3 separate regions of the Homo sapiens genome follow, and regions 1 and 2 are each linked to region 3. Evidence: fine-mapped expression QTL. A gene starts in region 3. Each other region holds a variant in brackets. All regions are shown on one strand. Distances are between the middles of the regions.

Region 1 (8,164 bases), 30 kb before region 3:
GGGTTGGGGGTGGTGATGATGGTGGAGCAGGGGCCATTGCACTCCTTGAAGAGAGCCAGAAGCAAGGAATGATGAAATTATACTCCCGGATGTGCTGGGGTTGGTGGGTGTTCACCAGACACAGTCCACACTTACCTCGGGGACTCTGAAACCAGAGAGAGCAGAGACCTAAGAGATCATTCAGTCCAACACTTTCATTTTACAAGTGGGCCCAGAGAGGGTAAGTGAGTCACATAGAAAGCAAAGTTATAACTAGACTCAAGTTTTCTGATTCTGAAAATAAATAGATGATACTAGTAACAGTCAATTAATAGTAACAGAAGAAGAGTGGGCATGGTGGTTCATGCCGTAATCCCAGCACTTTGGGAGGCCAAGGCAGGCGGATCATGAGATCAGGAGATCGAGACCATCCTGGCTAACATGGTGAAACTCCGTCTCTACTAAAAAAAAAAAAAAAATTAGCCAGGCGTGGTGGCAGGCGCCTGTAGTCCCAGCTACTCAGGAGGCTGAGGCAGGAGAATGGCATGAACCCAGGAGGTGGAGCTTGCAGTGAGCTGAGATCATGCCACTGCACTCCAGCCTGGGCGACAGAGCGAGACTCCGTCTCAAAAAAAAAAAAAAAAAAAAAAAGTAACAAAGAAAAAGTTTCCATTCCCAACAGTCCTGGGAGAAAATGCATTTAGGTCAAAGCTTGTTCATACTACCATGTAAATGACTAATATAAGATCTTTTCCTGAGAGCAAGAGAAGTGAGGTACAAGACATGCTAAGTGAAATGACAATAACATACAGAGAGAGTAACAAATGATGTGTTGTTCAGTAGTGACACAGGGGTGCTGATGGAAAAGGAATCCTATCATATTGGTTACTTGCTGTGGACTAGACCAAGACATTGAGCTAACCAAATGCAACAAAGCTGTTAGAACAGACTTGGGATCAAATAATGAATGAATCCAGAGTCAAGCTTTGGAAGGGACTACTGCCCTCAAATACATAATCCCATTGAAAGAGGAAGCTGGACCATGCCCTTAGATACATTTTCGTAAAAATTGAACATGGGGGTGAAATCTGTCTCTTGGAGAATAAGAACCTGGTGTGAGGGTGGTTCTGAAGATTTTCCTGGATGGTGGGACCTGGTAGGTCATTGCCCTGGTGTGACTGACCTGTCCTGAGTCTGCCTCATGCAGAACTCACCCTAAGTGGAATTTTAAAATATACGTATCTGGCTGGGTGCAGTGGCTCATCCCTGTAATCCCAGCACTTTGTGAGGCTGAGGCGGGCAGATCACTTGAGGTCAGGAGTTCGAGACCAGCCTGGCCAACATGGTGAAACCCCATCTCTAGTAAAAATACAGAAAAATTAGCCTGGCCTGGTGGTGCACGCCTGTAATCCCAGTTGCTTGGGAGGCTGAGGCAGGAGAATCCCTTGAACCTGGGAGGCGGAAGTTGCAATGAGGCGAGATCACGCCACTGCACTCCAGCCTGAGTGACAGAGTGAGATTCCATCTCAAAAATAAATAAATAAATAAAATGAAATATACATATTTATTACTTTCCTGTTTATAAAAGTAATGCATGTTTTTTTGTTTTTTAAAAATCAGATATTGCAGGAATGCTAAACTCTTGTCATTTTATTTCTGCATGGAGTCTTTTTAGTTAAGCAACTTTTTTTTTAACCTCGTGGGTCCCAGGTCAAGTGGCCGCAGGGTCACCCAGGTGGTGCGGGACTTCCTCCATGCCCAGAAGGTGCAGCCCCCCGTGGAGCTCTTTGTGGACTGGTTGGCCGTGGGCCATGTGGATGAGTTTCTGAGCTTTGTCCCTGCCCCCGATGGGAAGGTAAGAACTTCGTGCATGACGTGTCTTTCCCTGGCATCTGGGGCAAGAACTGAGCTCCAGGGCGCCATGCCAAGGCAGGAGGCTCAGCTGAATCTGTTCTCTGCACGCAGGGCTTCCGGATGCTCCTGGCCAGCCCTGGGGCCTGCTTCAAGCTCTTCCAGGAAAAGCAGAAGTGTGGCCACGGGAGGGCCCTCCTGTTCCAGGGGGTTGTTGGTGGGTAACAGTGCCGTGTCCCTCCTTGCGGCTTGCCTGCCCCTTACCCAAATTAAGACACATCATGGCTTGAGAGGGGGAGGGCAAGTTTTAAAGCAGGGGTGTGTCCCCAAATTCAGGGCTTCTCACTCCTGCCCCTGCACACCTTGCTTCACCAGACACCACTGCCCACAGCTGGGGCCGAGCTGAGGTGGGAAGCGGGGTGATAGAAGGTGGACATGGACTGAGCGGGGACATAGTGGCTTCCCAGGCAGGTGACCAGTGCAGTCACGGCGTGGAGCTTTAATGTTCTGCAGTCACTATCCTGAAATCTCCCTTTTTTTTTTTTCCTTTTTGAGACGGAGTTTCACTCTTGTTGCCCAGGCTGGAGTGCAATGGCGTGATCTCCACTCACCGCAACCTCCGCCTCCCAAGTTCAAGCGATTCTCCTGCCTCAGCCTCCTGAGTAGCTGGGATTACAGGCATGCGCCACCACGCCCGGCTAATTTTGTGTTTTTAGTAGAGACGGGGGTTTCTCCATGTTGGTCAGGCTGGTCTCGAACTCCTGACCTCAGGTGATCAGCCCGCCTCGGCCTCTCAAAGTGCTGGGATTACAGGCGTGAGCCACCACACCTGGCTGCCCTGAAATCTTAATTCTGTTTTGTGAGGTCTGATGGATCAGTGGAGCATCTACGGGGCTTGGAGCCTCTGCTCAGGCACAGTCCTGTCTCCCAGCCTCCCTGCCTCCCTGGCACAGATTCTCTGCTGCCTACTTCTGTGCTCCCTGGAGCCTCAGTGCAAGGCCTCCCCCATCTCTGTCACTGTCCTGAGATGCTGCAGCACTCTGCCCCCAGCAGGAGCCTGGGCATGGGGAGGGCTGGGGTTGGGCACATGTGCCACTCAGCATCTTCATGGCATCAGTCGTCCCTGCCCTGCAAGGGCATTTGGTGGGCAACTTGGGAGGGGTAAGTGTCTCACCCAGGCTTGCTCAGGTACCCAGCACATACCCAGAGGCCACAATACTCTGGAGGTCGCCCATTTGCCTTGGCTTGGGGTGGCAGTCCTGTGGGAATGAGAGATGCCAAACTGGACCTGCCAGCCCCGTTCCAGGGCACAGCATGTGGGTCTCATAGCAGAGGCATGCCCAAGCACAGCCCCCTGGGAGCTAGGCCTCCGCTGTGAGGCCCACAGGGTGGGCCCTGACACCAGCAAGGGACTGTCCAGCCCCATGCAAGTCCCCGGCAAAGCGCAATGTGAAATAGCAAATAAAAACCACCCTGACAAGTCAGGAGAGAGACTCGGGGACAAAGAAACAACTTTATACTGTAGCACTTTTAATGGTACTCTTTTGTCTGCTCTTTAAACAAGGAGCTGGCATTTTCTTTTCTTCTTTTTTGAGACAGGGTCTATCAGCCAGGCTGGAGTGCAGTGACATGATCTCAGCTCACTGCAGCCTCGACCTCCCAGACTTAAGCGAGTCTCCCACCGCAGCCTTGCGAGTAGCTAGGACCACAGGCATGCACCACCACGCCTGGCTAATTTTTTGTATTTTTTGTAGAGATGGAGTCTCACCGTGTTGCCCAGGCTGGTCTTGAACTCCTGAGCTCAAGTGATCTGTCTGTCTTGGCCTCCCAAAGTATGGGATTACAGGTGTGAACTACTGTGTCTGGCCAGGGCCCACTTTTTTTTGTTTTGTTTTTTGTTTTGCACTGGAAGAATTTTGAGAGAGAGAGAGCTGGCTGGACTGGAGTCATCTGGCAAGCTTGCTGGAAGCGTTCTCAAATTCACTCCCTTTCCAGCCCCACTGAGACTGCATGAATCCCAGAGGATCCTCCCTTTCTCAGTGACCCCAGAGGTCCCAGGGCAAAGACCCTTTGACACGCAGGATCATAGATTTTCTTGGTCCCATGGCCTCAGGGAAGGCAGATAGCATCCTAGACCAAACACAGCTCAGAGAGAAAAAAAGCTCCTGTAGAACTTAGACGCCCCCAAGTATAATAATTTCCAAAGTCCCCTTGCTCTCTGTTTGCTAGCGTTAACTTCTTCCAACACAACCCTGGAGCCTTAGCAATAAAATGGAAGAGAAATAGTCTTTCTTGACCCTGTTGCTCCCAAACGCACCCTAACTAGACTCCGGTGAACCTAGAGTAAGTCTTAGAAATCCTTAAATCCAAATTATGTACCAGGCAGGGAGAAATGCCACCTTCATCTTTCCTGGGAGAACTTATGGTGAGCAAGACCCAGGAATGGGTTGAGCAGAGTTATTCCAACCTGCCCAGCTGGGAGGGAGCGTGGGAGAATTCACAGATGGCAGGCCACAAGCAGCCACCCCACCCTCGAGGGCTGACACTCAGGCAGTGACTGTGGCGATTAATTACATAGACA[C/T]AGAGGCCAGACACAGAGGCCAGAGCACTGATTAGACACCTCAGTGCGCCAGGCCTCACGCTGTGTGCATCACACGTGTTATCTCATTTGATCTCACGAGAGATCAAATGGGATGACTCTCACCCACCTTTATTCCCAAGAATGTGAGGCTCAGAGAGGGGATGTCACTGGCCCAGAGGCCTCAGCAAGATTGCAGTGGAGCTGGGACTGGACCCCAGCTTCCTGCCTTAAACTGGGGTGAAGCGGGCGTTAGACCTGCAGATGGGTCAGGGGAGCCCTCTCCTTTCCCTTGGTCAAGGCTTGAGGCCCTGTGCGAGCCCTGGGCTTGGGTTTGAATCACAAGCCCCCACATATCCTACCTGTGTGACCTTTGGCAAGTCTTCTGACCTCTCTGAGCCTCAGTTTTCTCATCTGTAAAGTGGGGATCATAATGCATACCTTGTGGGGGTCACCGTGAGGGTTAAATGAGATGCTGAACCTGGGCACTCCCCTCGGGGCCTGCTCATGGTAAGCGCTTACTAAGTAGCAGCCATGAGGATTGTGTGCCATTGACTCTAGCCTCCGCTTCCCTGTCCAGTCTCATCTGCATGGGCACACCATCAGGCTGAGAAAATCTGGACCCCTGGGAGGTCCCCATTTCACGCAGTCACCCCCTGAAGGGCAGGATTGGGGCTGGATGGTGTCTGAATCCCAGGACTGGCTGGTTCGCTGCTCAGTGAACCTATAAAACCTGACTGATGGTGGGTGGGTGGGCAGCAACTGACCCAGCTCCCCGCTAAGCCAAAGCAAGAGGATTCCTCATCCAGTGCCCTCGGGCAGTTGTACATTTCCAGTGACAGGCGTTACCACTTCCAGTGAACTCAAATAAAGGTCTCAGTTCATTCCACTGTGGCAACCAGACCCTCCCACTCCTTATACCCCAAGATGTGCACAGTGGCCAAGGCAAGCTCAGACAGGTGGAACCCACCCAAGGCCTGGGAAAGTCAGAGGCTGCTGACTCGGCAAGACCATTAGCTGTGAACTTGGCTCCTGCCTGTCTGCTTCCCTAAGCAGGTGGTCCTCACGTTGGTGCTGTCCCTGTCCTTCTCTTTCATCTCTCTCCTTCACAGATGATGAGCAGGTCAAGACCATCTCCATCAACCAGGTGCTCTCCAATAAAGACCTCATCAACTACAATAAGTTTGTGCAGGTACAAGGGCTGTGGTGTACCTGTGGGCTGTGATTTGGGAGTAGGCGGGGCTGGAGGCAAGGATGGGATACAGACATCTGAGGCTAACTGTTCATGAAAGCTCAGGTTAGAACAGGCCCAGACAGAGGGGTCCCAACACCCTCTTTTGACCCAGAAGAAGTGAGGGGAGCGACAGGATGCCTTGGTGCCCCCAAAACACACTGGCAAGGTGTCCCCAACTCTGGCCCTCCCCTGCCCCCAGAGCTGCATCGACTGGAACCGTGAGGTGCTGAAGCGGGAGCTGGGCCTGGCAGAGTGTGACATCATTGACATCCCACAGCTCTTCAAGACCGAGAGGAAAAAAGCAACGGCCTTCTTCCCTGACTTGGTGAGGGCACTACCCATGACTCCTTTGCCAAATCAGGCTGCAAACCTCTAAGCTCGAGAGAGGAAAAATGTCTGGTCACAGTCATATTTAGGATTGTGGTGGCCAGTGGGGGTGGCAGGGAGAATCAGGGGTCCTATGGTGCTCCTCAGAAGGGCTTCTAGCTGGCTGACCACCATGGTCCCTGTGGAATGCTTGCTGGCCAAGCCCTGGCCCAAGGGGCATCAGGGAAGGGGTCCACTTGACATTTGTGGAGTGAATGAATGATTGCATGAGGTCACGTGTGCAAAGCACATGGCATCAGCTGGGAACCCAGATGCTCATTCTGCTCTCTTCCTCCCAGCTTGTGGCTCTTCATCCATCCCACATGTATTTAGGGTGTCCTGTGGCAGATGCAGAGATGATTAAGAATGCCCCCTGCTCTCAAGGGACTTTCAGTCTAATCGGTTGAGAGGGAAACTCTTCCCTTCTCTGAGGACATGTCCCAGTGATCTATTTTGTAGGATAAGGCGATGTGGCAGTTTGGAGGTGAGACAAAGCACTTCCAGCCTAAGAGGTAGAACTGGAGATCCAGGAAGTCTTCATGGAAGAAGTGGCTTTTGACTGAGCCTTGAGGGCTTTGCCTCTGATGCTTGTAAATCTTTTTTTCTTTTTTTCTTTTTTTTTTTTTGAGACGGAGTCTCACTCTGTTGCCCAGGCTGGAGGGCAGTGGCACAATCTCACTCACTGCAACCTCAGCCTCCAGGGTTCAAGCGATTCTCCTGCCTCAGCCTCCTGAGTAGCTGGGATTGTGGGATTGCAGGCGTGCACCACCACGCCCGGCTAATTTCTGTATTTTTAGTAGAGATGGAGTTTTGCCATGTTGGCCAGGCTGGTCTTGAGCTCCTGACCTCCGGTGATCCACCAGCCTCGGCCTCCCAAAGTGCTGGGATTACAGGCGGAAGCCACCGTGCTTGGCCTGCTTCTAAATCTTGAGCTTGCCTTTGAAACACCTGGACAGGTGGGGCCCCACCCCAGCGGTCCTGATTCAGCAGGTCTAAAGCACGGCCCGAGGCACTGCTGCCGCGCTAACAAACACCCAGGTGGTGCTGATGCTGCCTTTTAGAGGAACACAGTTTGAGTAGCACTGCTATAGGTCACCCAGCTCCCCTCTCCACTCCTCCCCACCTCATCCCCTAAAAGAACTCAATTTGCCCATTGTCAGAGCCTTGTGGGGAACCTGTCCACACCACCATTGCTTCATGCCCCGCTTTTTCCTTCCTCTTTTCAGGCAACATTTTGCCCTCCGCTTGCAAAGCCTCTTTTCACTCCCCTTCCTTCCTGTTCGAGGCTATCTTGTAATTATATATGTGCCCCAAGAAGTTTGTGCAATGATTCAGGTTCTTGTGTTCGCAAGAGACAGAGTCCTACTGAAGCCAGCTTCAGCCAGAGGGAGTCTTAATATAAGGACACCAGAAACCTGAGGGCAGGATAGCTGCAGCAGAGCCTGGAACCCTCTCTGTTTCTGTGTCTACATCATTCATTCTCTCTCTTTCTCTCACCCTCTCCACCTCCTACTTCTTCTCCCTCTTCTTCCAGCTTGGCTTCCTTTGCTTCTCTGTTCCTGGGGACAAAGATGAGTATGGCCATGCACAGAGACACTGACACGGGCAGAGACCAACTAGACGCTCCCATTGTCAGTTTCAAATTCCTGGGAGAGGGACTCTGATTGGTCCATCTTGGACCAGCTGTTCTCCCTGGCCCAATCAGTTATGGCCTAGAAGGTTGGGATTCTGCAGCACAAACATGGCAGCTGCCACAATCCACAATTCCAAATTCACATTAGGGCAGTTTCCAGAGCACGTTGCCAGAGTGAGTTCTGCGGATGCTCCCAAAGGCACCTGGCTAACCGGTTCTTCCCAGCCCCTTTAGCCAGTTACCTTCTCATTGCACAGGAAAGGGTGAGTAGCTATTGACAAGGCTGTCTAAAACACAAACCTAGGTCCTGCAGGTAGAGTAGAGGTGTGGGGTGGGAGCCCAGTGATGAAGTGCTGCTTCCCCTTTGGACTGCAGGTGAACATGCTGGTGCTGGGGAAGCACCTGGGCATCCCCAAGCCCTTTGGGCCCATCATCAATGGCTGCTGCTGCCTGGAGGAGAAGGTGCGGTCCCTGCTGGAGCCGCTGGGCCTCCACTGCACCTTCATTGATGACTTCACTCCAT
Region 2 (8,178 bases), 240 kb after region 3:
ACCCAGGGGAGTTAATGTGTGTTTTCTCCACCCAGAAGGAATGGCATGTGCAAAGGCTCAGAGGCATGAATTATTGAGAGTTCAGTCTGGCTCTGGTGTCAGGTGAATCAAAAGTCTGCAGGGCTTGAAACAGAGTAGGGGAAGCATTGAACCTTCCTCAAGTCAGGAGGCACAGCATCATCTGGGTGCCAGCAAAGGAAATCTGACAAACCTCACCTGTCAGGGGCCTTGTGCTGTGTGGATCACCCTGCTTCCCTAAAAATCTTTGAGGTTTCTTGGTAGTTTCCTGCTGTCCCTGAAGCTTGCTGGTCTTCCAGCCCCTGCATCTGTGGCTGGTGGATTCTCAAAAAAAATCCATGTTAATATCAAGCACAAAACTTAATTGGGAAGAGGGGTCTCCTGTTCTCCCCCCATTGCTAATTGATACCAGAAAAGCTGCTTCTGTCCTTCATTTAGGCAGATAATTGAGAACTTGTTTGCTTAAAGGCAACTGATTTTGACTTTATGCCTATAGGTGCCAGATATTTTTCATGCATCAATTCATTTAATTTCCATGCCGATCCTGCAAGTACGTCCTATTTTCCGATCTTATCGATGAGGAAATTGAGTCTCAGAGACTTATCCAAGGGCACTGTGTTTGTAAGTGGCAGGATTTGAACCCGGCAGGCCCTGAGATCTTTCTGCAGTCCCGTGCTCCCCTCCTTTATGCGGTTTTCCTTTTCCCTTTGAGGAGGGGAGGGAGAGATTCATCACATGCCTGGAATCTCAGCACACTTTGCCTTTCTTAGTTCGGAGTTAATGTATGTTTTTTTAATTCAGTGTTGGCAAGGCCCAGTCTGGTCATAGCTGGGTTTGTTACCTTGTGGCTCAGGGGCAAGGATGAGAATAGAATTCTGGTACCCACACGGGCTCCCTAGGCCTGGTGTCAGGAAAGAGCTAATACTAATGGCTCATAATTGCAGAGTGGCAGGCACCTTGGTAGTGCATGGCTCGTGGGAGCTTTCTCAGTTCTCAGCTACTCCAAGAGGTGGGGTGCATCATTATCTCTGTTTTGCCTCCATTGAACTTGCCCAGGGTTGAGCAACCAAGAGTTAGAAGCACCACATTCTGCTCGCCCCGGAGTCCTGCCTCTCCACTCTTGTGTCTTTCCTTGAGCAGCGCCAACCCTCCCAGGGCCTGGCCCGGCTGTGCCTTTGACAGCCCCTAGCAGCAGTGCCCATATGCTATGGAAAATGGGGAAGGATAATTGACCACTTGGCCACAGGCCCAGGGTCTGCCCACCTCTTGGTTAGAGCCAGCACTGAGCTCCCTGCCATGGGGTTCATCTTCCCACTGGCCTGTTGGTTGAGAGGATGGTCTCAGACCAGGCCCCAACACCACCTTCTTGCAGATACATCCCCAGTCCAGGGCAGTGCAGGTGGTTTGTGATGGTGCCAGCCCATGTTGGCATGTTGGGCCCAAGATGAGGTGGCATTTCTGAGTTTTGGAACCCCTCTTTCTCCTTGAGAGCCTGGCCCCAGAGTGCCCTCCTCTCTGTAAAAGTCCTGGTTCTAGTCGCTGGCTGATTGGTATGCATCCCAGAATCCCGGCCATTAGCATACAAGGCGGGAGCCAGCTCTCATTACTCCCCTCTCTTCATTGTTTGAAGTGGGCAGACTTGGAGTGAGCTTTGGAAATGTGGGCTTTTTATTCAATTTCCCTAGAAAAACAATGGTTAAATTAAGTAGGAAAATAACAGTCTCCCGAAATTGAAGAAAAATATTCCTGAACCTAGACATTACCCACAACCTTTGAATTTCTTTTAAAACAGGCATTTGTTTTACTTTAAGTTATACATGTATCGCATGACCACTGAAGAAAACACAGAGAAAATACAGAGAGAAGAAAATGGAAATCATTTTGCCACCTGAAGACAGCCTCTCTCAATATTGTGGTGCATATCATTCATGTATTCAGTGATTCATTTACTCATTTGGCAAGTATCTATTTAGGGCCCACAAAGGGAGAGGCTGTGTTGGGTTCTGGGAGTAGACGCTGGGAGTAGAGGGGTACCCTGCTCCCTGCTGGGGCTCTTTCTATGTTGGGCCTTGGGCAACTCACTTGACCCTTCTCTTATCTGTTTTCTCATCTGTGGAATAGGGATAACACTAGTAGCTGTGTCATAAGGCATGGAGATTTGACAAGAAAGGGCAGGTAGGATGCTCATGATATTGCGTGGCCCAGGTCAAAGCTTAGTAATGTTGGCTTTTGTCATGTAGGGGAGGAATATCTTTTCTTCTACCCTGTTAGGTTCTGTGATAGAGCCTATGAATTAAACTGACAAAAGACAGATTAATAGGAGAAAAGGCATATAGATTTTATTTAATGTTACTATATATATGTATTTTTTTACTGTAAGGGGTCTCCATAGAAAAGAAATGAAAATCCAAAGAGGCAGTTAGACCCAGGAGCTTACGTAACATTTTAACAAAGGGCGATAAATTGTGGAGAAGTGAGGAGACAAAAGAAAAGTATTGGACTCTTAGGGGTCAGTAAATTTCAGGAAAGTGACTAGGAAATGTATGGTAGATAAGGGTGGTTTAGTAAGGTTTGTTATGCAGATAAAGTAAGGTAGAGGGGTACACCTTTGCAAATGGAAATTTATGTCACCTTTACAAAGGGAAATGTGTGCCCTGCTTTTAGGCAGAAAAGGGGAGGCAAAGAGCTCTTCCTGTATTGGCTGCTGCTCAAGTACCTTGAGCTCAAAATAATTCTTTTTTTTTTTTTTTTTTTTTTTTTGAGACAGCATCTTGCTCTGTTGCCCAGGCTGGAGTGCAATGGTCTTGGCTCACTGCATCCTCTGCCTCCTGGGTTCAAGCAATTCTCCAGCCTCAGCCTCCTGAGTAGATGGGATTACAGGTGCGCACCACCACACTCAGCTAATTTTTGTATTTTTAGTAGAGACAGGGTTTCACCATGTTGGCCAGGCTGGTCTTGAACTCCTGACCTCAAATGATTCTCCTGCCTCAGCCTCCCAAAGTGCTGGGACTATAGGTGTGAACCACCACTTCTGGCCCTGGGATGGCATATTCTGATCCTTTTCAGTTACAACAGTGAGTAAGCTGACATTAACCTTGCCCTGGTGGTTTTGTTTTTGTTTTTGTTTTTGAGATGGAGTGTTGCTCTGTCACCCCGGCTGGAGTGTGATGGCATGATCTTGGCTCACTGCATCCTCTGCATCCTGGGTTCGAGCGATTCTCCAGCCTCAGCCTCCTGAGTAGATGGGATTACAGGCGCCTGCCACTATACCTGGCTAAGTTTTGTATTTTTAGTAGAGATGGGGTTTCACTATGTTGGCCAGGCTGGTCTCGAACTCCTGACCTCAAGTGATTCTCCCACCTCAGCCTCCCAAAGTGCTGGGATTACAGGTGTGAGCCACGGTGCCCAGCCTCGTGAGTCTTATATGATGGTGGAGGAGACAAAAATCAAACACATCAAATTTATAAAGTAACCACATGTTATGCATTAAGTCCTGTGAAGGAAACAGACTGGTGGATGGTGATAACTGGGGATGAGGGGTAGAGAGGGTGTATGTGGGGGTGGGGGTACAGGATTCGTTAGCTGCAGGTGGTCAGGGAGGCCTCTCTGAAGAGAGACATTTAAGCCAGACCTGAATGACAAGCAGGAGCTCCCCCTGCAAGGATCTGAGGGAAAAGTATTCCGGGTAGGAGCTACAGCAAATGCAAAAGCCCTGAGGCCAGATGAACTTGGCCTGTTTAGGAGGGTGTGGAAGAGGCCATGTTAGTTAGGACTGTTACTCTAGGTGCAAAAGGAAACCATCGGAGGTTTGTTTTCCACTTCCCATAAATACCTTTACTAATGAAATATAGTTCCAAGATTCCAGCTAGTAAAAACTCTGTTAAGAAATTCACCTTTTTCCAATAATTTATTCAAAAATAATTTACCAAGTGCCTATGATGTGGAAGCACTTGACTCAGTGCTGTGGGGTGATGGATGGGTACAAAGATATGGTGAAGTTTTACGCTCCAATAACCCATGGTCCAGCAAACAAGACTACGAACATTTGCAGGGTCAAGGGCAGGGAGGGACTGATTTACCTTTGCAAAAGATCCCATGTCTGCTGGGAGGAGAACTGGCTGTAGAGAGCCAGGGTGGAGGGGTGGAGCTGGGAACCAGAGGAAAGGCAAGGAAAGGTTCCCATTTGGCAGTGGAATAGGAGAAAAGTCTGGGGTTTGGGTTATATATCAGCTGGAATCAACTGGAATTTCTGGTGGATTGTACACAGGGGTGAGGGAAAGAGAAGAACTGAGCATGACTTCTAGATTCTTCTTTTGAGTCTCTGAGTGAGTGGTGGTGTCATGAAAGGAGACGGTTAAGAGGGAGTGAGGAGCATGGCTTTTGGAGAAACCAAGGGTTAGGTTTGGGGCAGGTTCACATTGAAAGGCTGGTTAGAAGTCCA[A/T]GGGGGTAGGCCGGGCACAGTGGCTCACGCCTGTAATCCCAGCACTTTGGGAGGCCAAGGCGGGAGGATCACTTGAGGTTGGGAGTTTGAGACCAGCCTGGGCAACAAGGTGAAACCCCATCTCTACTGAAAATACAAAAATTAGCCAGGTGTGGTGGCGGGCGCCTGTAATCCCAGCTACTCAGGGGCTGAGGCAGGAGAATTGCTCGAACCCAGGAGGGTGGAGGTTGCAGTGAGCTGAGACTGTGCCATTGCAGTATAGTGTGGGCAACGAGAGTGAAACTCCATCTCAAAAACGAAAAAAAAAAAGCCAAAAAACCCCAAAGAAGTCCAAGGGGGTAGTGAGGGCCTCTGGGCTGGAGATGCAAACTTGGGCATCCTTAACATATAAAGGGGACAGGTGTGACCACCCAGAGAGACAATTCAGAGGAGAGATCCCTCCACAGGGAGGTGAGCTCTGGGAGCTCTTATATTTATAGTCTGGTGGAGGAGGAGGAGCCAGGGCAGGCAGCCTGGGAGCTAGGGGAAGATGGGTGCAAGGAACTTACCTTTAGTGCCAGGTGCTGAACTAAACACCTGGGGAGGATCGGCCCCTGGTCCTCACGATAAGTCTGTGAGGTGCAGGTGCTATTAAGCGTCTCACCTTATCGAAGCGGAAAGAGGCCCGGAGGTGACCCAGTGCACCTGCCAGCAGGTGCACGACTGTGTAGGGAGTGAGGATTCACACCAAGGGGGGCAGTCCACCTCGTTTGCCCACGGCATTCCCGTGTTGCAGAGGAGGATTCCAAAGCTTGTGGTTTTGTTCATTTGTTTTCATTTGTCTGTCCTTGCATTCCTCTCCTCCCAACACATATTTACTAAGCACCTACTGAATGCTGTGCACTGGGCAAGGAACTGGAGATTCCAAGATGAGTAAGGTGTGGCGCCCCTTAATCTGGTGAGGGAGGTGGATGGGCAACAGCTGAAGGGTGGGCGGTGCCTGATGCAGGTGGAGGGACTCCGAGGAGGCTTCCCAGGGGAGTGTCCAAGCCAAGCAGTGGAAAAGGCAGAGTTAGGTCAGGAAGCAGGAGGCATCCAGGCATGTGCCAAGGCTCAGGGGAGGGAATAGCAGGGCCATGTCAGGGAGGGTGCAGGAGGGTGCTGCTCAGGAGCTCTGTCCATTGTACTAGGGGCTTGTACTTTATCTTGTGGGCCCTGCGAGCCAGTCAACTGTTTCAAGCTAGGGGATGACGGGATTAGAACTTTTTGTTTGGGGTAGAGATTGGGCTGCAAGGGACAGAAGAGTTACCAGGGAGAGCTTTCAAGGCTGTTAAAAGGCTCTCGATTCCTAGGTCATTCTCTGAACCCTGCTGCTTCCTTACTCCTTCCCAAATTCTGCTCATTTTTCTCTTCCAAAAAGATTTCCGAGTCAGAGAGGTTAAGCAACTTGCCTGAGGTCTCCCAGCGTGCCAGGTCATCCAGGCTGGGACTGGTCTTCTAACTAAAACAACCACAGTCCCAGGGGTGGAAGCGGATGGTGAGTAACCCCAGGGAGCGGCTCACTGGAGGCTTGAGTTGAAGGTCACCGTCCACAGTCCCCGTGTGGCTTTAAACATTGCCTTTTTGCAGTCTCAGAGAACAGTTGGTGCTTCTGGGCAGGAGGAGCTGGGCTGCTGCTGGGAGCCAGGGCTGGGGCTTTCCCAGAGCTGCACGGGTTATTTAAGCAGTTTCCTGGGCATCTGCTTCCTCCCCAATGAGTGATGGGAAAACTCCATGGGGCTGGTGCAGGATTTGATTAACAGGTCACATGAGGCCAGTGAGGGAGGCAGTCCCTGCTGGGAAGGGCAGATGCCAGGCAGAGGGCGAGGGGAGGGGGAGATGGGGAGCACTTCCCAGAGCCCTGTGCTATGAGCTCTGTCACTTTGGGCAGGTGTCTCACCTCTCTGCAGTCTTGGTTCCCTCGCCTGTAGAGATAATATGAAATGTGACCAATAGGACTGAAGTAATAACCAGTGTCCACTGTAGGCCTGAAGTGTGCCAGGTACCACGCATGATCTTGTTTCAATCTATCTTTTTTTTTTCTTTTGAGATAGAATCTCACTGTGTCACCCGGCTGCAGTGCAGTGGCATGTTCTTGGCTCACTGCAACCTCTGCTTCCCGGGTTCAAGTGATTCTCCTGCCTCAGCCTCCCAAGTAGTTGGGACTACAGGTGCATGCTACCACAGCTGGCTAATTTTCGTTTTTTTTTTTTTTTTTTTTTTTTTTTTTTTTAGTAGATACAGGGTTTCACCATATCAGCCAGGCTGGTCTCAAACTCCTGACCTCCAGTAATCTGCTCCCCTCAGCCTCCCAAAGTGCTGGGGTTACAGGCGTGAGCCACCGTGTCCAGCCTCTTGTTTCAATCCCTTGTCATCTTGTGAGCTATGGATGGTCATTATCTTCATTTTATAGATGACACAGCTAAGGAACAGAAAGGGTAGATATTTTGTCCCAGGTCACACAGCTAGTAAATGGCAGAATTTGAACCTGACCCTCTAACTCTGGAGCCCTCCCCTGAAATCCCTGTGGTCCCCCTTCAAACTTTGTTCAGCTGAGCATGAGTCCCTTCCTTGGCAAATCACTTGATAGGATCCTGTGGGGCACTAGCATTCTGCCCACTTGACTTTGGGACACCCCAGTCCCTACAACCCCTTAAGTTTTATCACGAAGACTTGGAGCTCCAGTGGGCCTCAGCCCCTGGCTCATCATCTTTCAGCCAAGTGGGGCAGACCCGGGACCAGAACCCCAGCATCCCAGACTCCTGGCCTTCTGCTCCTTTCACTCCTCCAGGGCCTCAGAGGGGGACTGGACTGGGAGCCAGTTGCCTGGGTTCTAATCCCACTTCTTCCTTGGACCAGCCAGAAGAGCTTGGGCAACATTTCACTTTGCCCCCTGCCTTTACCCTAAGCCTCAGTTTCCTCTTCTGTGAGATGGGTAGATTGAGAATCTAGAATCTCTACCAATTCTAATAATTCATAAGTGTAAGATTTCAGGTTTCTATCTAGGAATCTGTAAGAGTCAAACATTTGCCACCTTTTTCTACTTCCTGTCCTCTATTGCCTGTGGGACTCGAGGAGACTGAGATGAGGAAACAATTCAGTGAACCCTCTATAGTTTGACACACTGTAGTTTGAGGGTGGTGGCTCATGCCTGTAATCCCAGCACTTTGGGAGGCTGAGGTGGGAGTGTCGCTTGAGCCCTGGAGTTCAAGACCAGCCTGGGCAACATAGTGAGACCCCATCTTTAAAAAAAAGCCAAAAAACAAAAATTAGCCAGGCATGATGGTGGGCACCTGTAGTCCCAGCTACTCAGGAGGCTGAGGCGGAAAGATGGCTTGAGCCCAGGAGGTTGAGGCTGCAGTGAGCTATGATGGCACCACTGCACTCCAGCCTGGGCAGCAGAGTGAGACCCTGTCTCTAAAAAATAAAAAATATATAGCTTAATAGCAGCGTATGATGACGACTATCACTTGAGTACCACTGGGTGCCAGGCACTGTGCTGGCTGCATCATGAATTATTTTTTTGCCTACTCAACAGGGAGGCGAGTATGATTAGCTCCATGTTAAATGTGAGAACTGAGACACAAAACGTTTAGCTAACTTTCCCAAGGGTCAAGTGATTGCATGACCTGTATATGAAAGCTGGACTTCAAAGACCAGAGGAAGTGCAGAGGATACGTTTGCTAGGTGCTTCCTTGTGG
Region 3 (8,178 bases):
TGATGCATCGCTGCATGGTTTATGACACTGAAAACTTGCAGACAGCCCCCATGTCCAACAGTAGGGGAGCAGCCATGTCAGGATGCAGCTGGAGCTGCAGGCACAGGTGGGGCACGCGCCAGCCCCAAGTCTGTTGGCCTCTCATTCCACTGCCCTTGGCTCCTGCCCTCAGCCCTGCCCATCACAGAGCCCGTGGCCCTTGTTCCACTGTGAGTGACCAAGTGTGTTTCTACAAAGAGGCTTTGCTTCCAAAGTGCAGCCGTTTTCCCTCAGTGTGAGTGAGTGTGTGTGTGTGTGTGTGTGTGTTACAAACCTAGTTTTGCATTGCTCCCTGTGTAATTGCAAATAGCATGCATTCTCTTTTGCATCTCCTCTCCCTCATCACTCCCCTGGGTCTCTGGTGGAGGACCCCAGGGCTCATCCCTCGGCCTTCTCTCTTCCCTATCCTCACTCATTCCCTAGGGGAGCTGGAGATGTTGACATCTCACTGTTTTATCCTTTTCAGCCTGGTCCTGTCTCTTAAGCTCCGGAATCATGTGTTCAAACGTCCTACAGGGCATCATCACACCAAATGACACTTGGCAAAGCCAGGACCAAACTCCTGATCTCCACCATGCCCACCCCCCGCCCTTCCCTCAGCCTTCCCTGCCCAGCTGCGGGCAGCCCCATCCCTCCAGGGCCTCAGGCTCCAAACTGCGGTGTCCTCCTCCATCCCTCTGTCTTTCTTAACACCCCTCATCCAGTCCCTCTGCAACTCCTATTGGCTGTATTGCATCACAAAATGTCCAGAACCTGACCCATCCTCCCCTCCTCCACTGCCACCACGCTAGCCTGAGCCCCACCGTCTGTCACCAGCCTGTGTGCAGCGGCCACCTCACAGGTCTTCTGGCCTCCTCCCGGGTCCCCTACAGTCTGTTCTCACATCACAGCCAGAGTGATCACGTTCAAGCAAGTTGGTTCGCGGTCCTTCTCTGCTCAAAATGACTCCAGGCTCCCCACGTTACTTGGAGCAGAGGCCAAAGCTCTTAGGATGCCCGAAAGGCCCTATATGATCGCACCCCGCCCTGGGCTGCTCTCCCCCTCCCTCACTGCATTTCAGCCACACTGGCCTCTTTGCTCTTTCTTGAACCCGCCAGGCATGTCCCTGCCTCAGGGCCTTTGTACCGATTGCACTGGCTGTTCTCTTGACTTGGAACCTTCTCCCTGTGTTCCTGGTAGCCTTTACCCTGTCCTTTTTCCTTTTTCTACCCCACTAACATACGATAGAATCCACTTACTGCATTTATTGCTTACTGGCTGTCTCTCTCCCAACAAAAACAAACAAACAAAAAGGCTCTATGAAGGCAGGATTTTTGTCCACTTTGTTCACAGCGTATCCACGGTGCCTGGAACAGTGCCTGGCCATCAATAGGCACTCAGTCAGTATTTGTTGAATTAACAAAACTGCTTTGGGGCTCGTCCTCTTTGTGGCTCGTTCACAGCAAATTTAAACCCCAAACTGCTGAAGAAAATAAGAAAGAAAAGAAGGAACAGAAGAAAACAACCTCAAGAGACCTAAGACTTGGGGTAGAGGCCAGCCCTCCCTCTGATTTGCTGTGTGACCGTGGGCAGGTCCCACTCCCTTTCTGTGCTTCAGTCTCCCCTTCTGCAAAACGAGGACTGGATTGGGTGTTCTCTAAGGGCCCTCCCAACTCTAACAATGGACAGCTCCCTCCTGCCACTTCCCAGTAGAAGCTCAAACTAGTTCTAATCATGCGGTCAGCCAGAGAAATTGGGTTTATTAACACTGTGTGCAGGCAGTCATGTAGATGCGTCAGAACGTCGGACCTGGCCACATCATCATCTGCTGGTACAGAAGATAAATTTTGAGCCCAGAGAAGGTGGTCTGAATCCAGATCCCCACTGTAGGGCTTATGAGACCTTGGGGGTCTCACTCAATCTCTCTAAGTCTTTGTGGTCTCATCTACACATGGGCATCCTGATAGGACGCACTCCATAGGGATGTTGAGATGAGGCAGGATTTGAACTAAAGCCTGTTTGATCCCACAGCCTGACTCTGAATTAATGAGGCAAATTCTTTGCTTCAAAGCCAAAGCAAGCAAACAAAAAACAAACGCAAGATATCCAACCCACGAAACGCTCTATGTTCACGCCAGACTCCCATGCATGCACCCTTTGAGTGCTCCTTGTTGGGACCCATCCACCACCCCCCAGTTGCCTCATTAAAGGCAGAGCCTGGCACCAATGGCCCAGGTGCAACCACAGCTCTGAGGCCACATGGGCATCCCCCTGGCAGGCGTGGCCCACACCTGCACTGTCTGGTCTGACACCCAGAGGCCCTGGCAAGAGGCAGGTATCCTGGAGCATGCAGAGAACATCAACTTCCATGCCAGGAAGCTCATCTTCTCTTCCCAGCTCTGCCGCATTCTAGCTCTGGCACCTTGGGCAAGAGCTAGTCACTTTTACTCTCTGAGCCTCAATTTTCCTTCTGTAAAATGGGTTGTAATAATAAGCCCATATACACCTTGTATTGTAGCGAGATGTAGCTGTGATACAGTCTGGAAAGCACGTGTCATATAGACAGGCAGCTAATGAATCTCACACTCTGGAACTGGACACCTTTGGTTCCAATTCTGGCCCTACCACTCTCGAGCTGTGGAAGAACTGCACCTCTGTTTTCTCCTCTGTAAAATGGGTATAATAATGGCACCAACCTCAGAGGGCTGCTGTGAGGGTGAAATAAGGGGATAATGGTATGATCTAGTTCACGGGTTTGTCGTAATGAGCTATTCTATGTGAAGTGCAGGAAAACGTGCCTGGCATAGAGAATGTGAGCTGTCATGTGGGTGGCCCAGGTGGAGAGACTTGTCCCAAGCCTGGTTGGTCTTTGAACGTGTAGCCTGGCCTGTGACTGCTTACCTAAAATCTCCCCGCTTTTCCCACCTTCTCCTCTCTGATATGCCTGTTTGACATAGGTGAGATTGGATAGATCAAGGTGTTCAGGGCCTCTAGGCAGGGATGGGACTGTGGGCATGAGGACCAGGACCCAACCCCTCAGCCCCACTCTCCACCCCAGGCTTTCTGAGCCATCCATCCTTCCCAAGAAACTGACAGAGCCACCCTGCCACTGGTACCAGCATTGACACCCATCTAGAGGTCCGAGGGGCAGCCCCAGGGCAGAGGAGATTTTGAGAGCCCACACCCCTGACCTGAGTGGGGAGGGGTTGAGCCTCTGGGCCACAGACCGCAGGTGCTGACTCATGGCCTCTGCTGGGCGATATAAAGGAACCAGCCCAGGGGCTTCCTACAGCCAGAGGGACGAGCTAGCCCGACGATGGCCCAGGGGACATTGATCCGTGTGACCCCAGAGCAGCCCACCCATGCCGTGTGTGTGCTGGGCACCTTGACTCAGCTTGACATCTGCAGGTAAGAGGGGGGCCTTCTGGGGTTTTGGAGGCAGGTCAGGAGATGCTGGATGACCCAGTTCTACTGACACAGGAGCATGTGTTTGGCCCAGGCTCTAGGCTCCAGCCTCTGCAGCCACTGCCAGGGGAGTAGCTGGAGAGAGAAGACCCCAGCAGCCCTGGGAAGTGCCAGTCTCATGGCTGTGGGTTCTTTGCCATGTACAAGTGCAAATTCCCCAGGAACACACGACAGATAAATTATTATGGGGCAAACCAGGCCATCCATCTCCCTGTCTTCATCGAGGCAACAGAAGCTTACAGAGAGTCTGTGACTTGCTCAAGGTCACACAGCACGTGTGCCCTGGAAGTAAGGTTAGCCCCTGGGCCTCCTGGTTCACAGCACAGTTTGTTACCCCACATCTCTTAGCTAAGCCTCCCTCAGTGGGTGCATAATAGCGTGGGTGGGGATGGCGAAACGGGGCTCTGTGGCGGCAGAGACTGAGGTAGGAAGCCTGGACCTGCTGCTGGCTAGCAAGGAGGCCTTGGGCAACTGAGCCTCAGTTGCCTCATCTGTGAAATGGGGATAATACTCACATCATGGGCTGGTTATAGGAATTCAATGTGAAAAAATGTGCAGATGTTGGCTGAGTACTTAGCACAGTGGTGGGCCCATCCTTGGTAGTTTTTATTTACTCATTTAACAAATGCTGAGTGCCATGCTCTGTGGCAGGGTCTGGGTTAAACAAGAGAGTTGAGGAATGCTCTCGGGGAGTGTGCAGGGTCATTGTTGTTATTGTAGAACAGGAATTAAAAGAAATTTTAAAACGTGTAAGCAAAAACTCAGTTCTATGTTAAAAAAAAAAAAAACAATTTTCCCTGGAAAAAAAAAAAAAAAAGAGCTGGAGTCCCTTAAAAATTAACTGCCTGTTTTTTTGTGGCTAGTGAGCCTTATTGCTCCTCTTTTTCCAGGCATTGTAAAGACCCTGTTTCTCCAGCTGTGCAGCTGCAAGGTCACTAGACAGATAAACTCAAGCTGTAAAAATTTTTTTCCTTAAAAAGTAAAAAATAATATAATGCATGTCTCAATTAAATAACTGTCTTTGTTTCTTGCCTCTATAATATGCTTCCCCCTGCACAGATCTACCCCCGCCCCATGAAATGCTTAAAAGATAACTTAACTCTTTGTTCAGGGCTCAGTCTTTTGAAATGTTAGCCTGACTGAGCCAGTGAATCTAAATAATAAATCCTCCTCAACCCCTCGGTCTCTCTGATTCCTAAATTATCCTGCAACAATTGCTGTTGTCAGGAATAGGAGTGGTTGCCCCTGGCTTCCCCATCCCAGTCTGGGCATCGGTGGCCCTAGAATGGTGCCCACAGGAGTGCCGGGGACATTTCTTTGCTACTGCCTGAGCCCCAGCAGCCAGAGAACAGCAGGAAATGTCGGGATGGTCTCCCAGGGCCACATGGTGGAGGCAGGAGACCAAGAAGTTGGGGAGAAAAGGAAAAAGAAAATCACCTGACATCATCTGAGGCGCCCCCAACTCCTCTGAGAATGGGTGTGAAGGAAATGACAGGAGCTGAAGCTAGCCCAGGGCCTCTCCCAGCATGCCCAGGCTAGCCCTCTACCCAGCGTCCATGAGTAGTAATCAAGATCACAAGTGCTTCCTCTGGCCCTAGAGAGGTGGGTGGACAGCTGGTCAGTGTTGGGCAGAGAGGAAGGCACTGCCCATTTCTCCCAGAAAGGATGGGGACTCCGGAGTTCACAGGGGCCTCTAAATCCTTCTTTTCTCCTCCTTCAGCCACACGTTGAGCCTGTCACTCTATCCCCTGAACATCTCACGTAACAATGGCTAATATTTACATCACACTTCCTACATTCAACTCATTCAATGGCCTTGGGAGGCAGGTAATGTTGTTATTCCCATTTTACAAAAGAGGAAACAGAGGCTCCAAGAAGTTAAGTAACCCACCTCAAGCCACACAGCTAATAAGTAGGGGAGCCAGGACTCAACCCAGGCAGCCTGACTCTAGGACCCTCCATTCTCCCCATGGGTCTCCGTTCCAGACCTTCCTGTCACTTCTTATCTGTTCTTAACATAGCCCCAGACAGCGCCTCCCTCCCATCTCCTGAGCAGCCATCGGCCTCTTCCTGAACCACACAGGTGGGAGGGCCACTCCCTCCTCACCTCCGCCCCTCATATTCATGCCTCCATAACTTTGCTCAAGCCATTCTCTCTGTCCCCAAAGTCAGGAACCCGGGAGGCAGAGGTTGCAGTGAGCCAAGATTGGGCTAGTGCACTCCAGCCTGGGTGACAGAGTAAGACTCTGTCTCAAAAAAAAAGAGGCAAAAACACCTAACCGAGGGTCACATAAATTAAAGGTGGCAAGCTGGGCACGGTGGCTTATGCCTGTAATCCCAGCACTTTGAGAGGCCAAGATGGGCAAATCACTTGTGGTCAGAATTTCGAGACCAGCCTGGCCAACATGGGGAAACCCCGTCTCTACTAAAAATACAAAAAAATTAGACGGGGCGCAATGGCTCACATCTGTAATCCCAGCACTTTGGGAGGCCGAGGCAGGCGGATCACAAGGTCAGGAGATCGAGACCATCCTGGCTAACATGGTGAAACGCCGTCTCTACTAAAAATACAAAAATTAGCCGGGCGTGGTAGCACGCAGCTATAGTCCCAGCTACTTGGGAGGCTGAGGCAGGAGAATCGCTTGAACCCAGGAGGCGGACGCTGCAGTGAACCGAGATTGTGCCACTGAACTCCAGCCTGGGCAACACAGTGAGTCTCCGTCTCAAAAAAAAAAAAAAAAATTAGATGGGAGTAGTGGCACATGCCTGTAATCTCAACTACTCAGGAGGCTGAGGCACAAGAGTTGCTTGAACCTGGGAGGTGGAGGTTGCAGTGAGGCAAGATTGCACCACTGCACTCCAGCAAGGGCAACAGAGTGAGACTCTGTCTCAAAAAAAAAAAAGTTAAAGGTGGCAAAGCCAGGACTGTCTGACCCTAAACCCACCCTGCTTCGCAGCCCACCCTGCCTCCAAATGCTGGGGAGTGGACTCCCCTGGGCACTGCTCCCTGTGGGCAGAGCTCATTCAACTTCCAAAGGATTTGGTAAAGGCCTAGAAGGGGTGGGGGTCCAGGAGGTGCCAACTGCAAAGGGCAGTGTGCATTCAGAAGCTGCCATCTATGGTCTCTCTTCTTCCTCCCAAAGTCTCCTTCTTCTTTTTTTTTTTTTTAAAAACGGAGTCTCGCTCTGTCCAGCCCAGGCTGGAGTGCAGTGGCAAGATCTTGGCTCACCGCAAGCTCCACCTCCCGGGTTCACGCAATTCTCCTGCCTCAGCCTCCCCAGTAGCTGGGACTACAGGCGCCTGCCACCATGCCTGGCTAATTTTTTTGTATTTTCAGTAGAGACGGTGTTTCACCGTGTTAGCCAGGATGGTCTCGATCTCCTGACCTCGTGATCCACCCGCCTCGGCCTCCCAAAGTGCTGGGATTACAGGCTTGAGCCACCGCGCCCAGCCGGGTTTCCTTCTGAATAGACCAGTTGGCATGACAGTGGGGAGCCTGGACAAGTCTGTTTGTCTCTCTGAGCCTCGGTTTACCCATCTGTAAAATGGGAAAATTAACACCCCTTCCTGGGTTACGGCGAAGATTGAATTATATAATGCACACAAAGTGTCTGGCAGAGGGGTCCCCTTTCCAATGCAAATCAAAGAAAATGACTAAAGTGAGTGTCAATCATTTTCAGAGGTTTATTTCCAAGGTTAAGGACGTGCCCAGGAAAAGAATACAGAAACAGGAAAAATCTGTAGTCCGTGCTTTTTCCTAAATGGGTCTGGGACTTCAATATTTAAAGGGAAAAGAGTGGGAATTGGGCCGGATGTGGTGGCTCACGCCTGTAATCCCAGCACTTTAGGAGACCAAGGAGGGTGGATCACCTGAGGTCAGGAGTTCGAAACCAGCCTGGACAACATGGTGAAACCCCATCTCTACTAAAAATACAAAAATTAGCCGGGCGTGGTGGCAGACGCTTGTAATCCCAGCTACTCAGGAAGCTGAGGCAAGAGAATCACTTGAACCCAGGAGGCGGAGGTTGCAGTGAGCTGAGATTGCACCATTGCACTCCAACCTGGGCAATAAGAGTGAAACTCCGCCTCAAAAAAAAAAAAAAAAAAGTGGGTATTGGGGCAAAGAGGAAGAAAGAAAAAAAAGATGGGTAGATAAGAGGTAAGTGGTTGCATTGAGTCTTTGATCAGCTTTCACTGAATACATTTTCCGTGTGAGGTGGGGAGAGGAATAGTCACTTATGCCTTGAGCTCAGGGAATCTATATTGTCACAAATGATAAACATAGAGCAAGGGAAGAAATCAGATATGCATTTGTTGCAGGTAAGCAGAGGGATAACTTTGATTTCTGTCCTTTGTTCCATGCCTGTGAAGATAAGCTATTAACTTACATTGTCAGGGTGAAATTCAACAGAACTGGTTCACGGGAAAGATCTTAGGGCTCACAAGGAATTTCCTTGTCGGCAAATTGTGAGGGAGATATGTAGCTTTTTTTTTTTTTTTTTTAATCTTTGTAGCTATCTTATTTAGAAACAAAATGGGGCTGGGCATGGTGGCTCACGCCTGTAATCCCAACACTTTAGGAGGCTGAGGCGGGCAGATCATGAGGTCAAGGGATGGAGACCATCCTGGCCAACATGGTGAAACCCTGTCTCTACTAAAAATACAAAAATTAGCTGAGCATGGTGGCGTGCGCCT

What was found. PIP is the estimated chance that this variant, and not a neighbour inherited with it, causes the effect.
Region 1: its variant is fine-mapped to the expression of PADI4 in whole blood (TOPMed, PIP above 0.99).
Region 2: its variant is fine-mapped to the expression of PADI4 in liver (GTEx, PIP 0.99).

What each region holds. Positions count from the first base shown.
Region 1 is chr1:17,274,830-17,282,993 of GRCh38, forward strand. It overlaps PADI3 (peptidyl arginine deiminase 3), which reads left to right. Exons shown (of 16, transcript NM_016233.2): 12 at 1,690-1,834; 13 at 1,945-2,047; 14 at 5,521-5,600; 15 at 5,842-5,967; 16 at 8,017-8,164. MIR3972 (microRNA 3972) reads left to right here and starts at 3,060; the gene lies at 3,060-3,146. The variant C/T (reference allele first, on the strand shown) is at 4,412.
Region 2 is chr1:17,545,894-17,554,071 of GRCh38, forward strand. All of the region lies in intron 1 of ARHGEF10L (Rho guanine nucleotide exchange factor 10 like), which reads left to right. Among named protein-coding and RNA genes, the nearest start is that of ARHGEF10L, 10 kb to the left of the region's middle. RefSeq lists an enhancer at 1,160-1,804 and a silencer at 8,121-8,178. The variant A/T (reference allele first, on the strand shown) is at 4,460.
Region 3 is chr1:17,304,889-17,313,066 of GRCh38, forward strand. It overlaps PADI4 (peptidyl arginine deiminase 4), which reads left to right and starts at 3,309. Exons shown (of 16, transcript NM_012387.3): 1 at 3,309-3,426. The coding sequence starts at 3,335. RefSeq lists an enhancer at 1-491.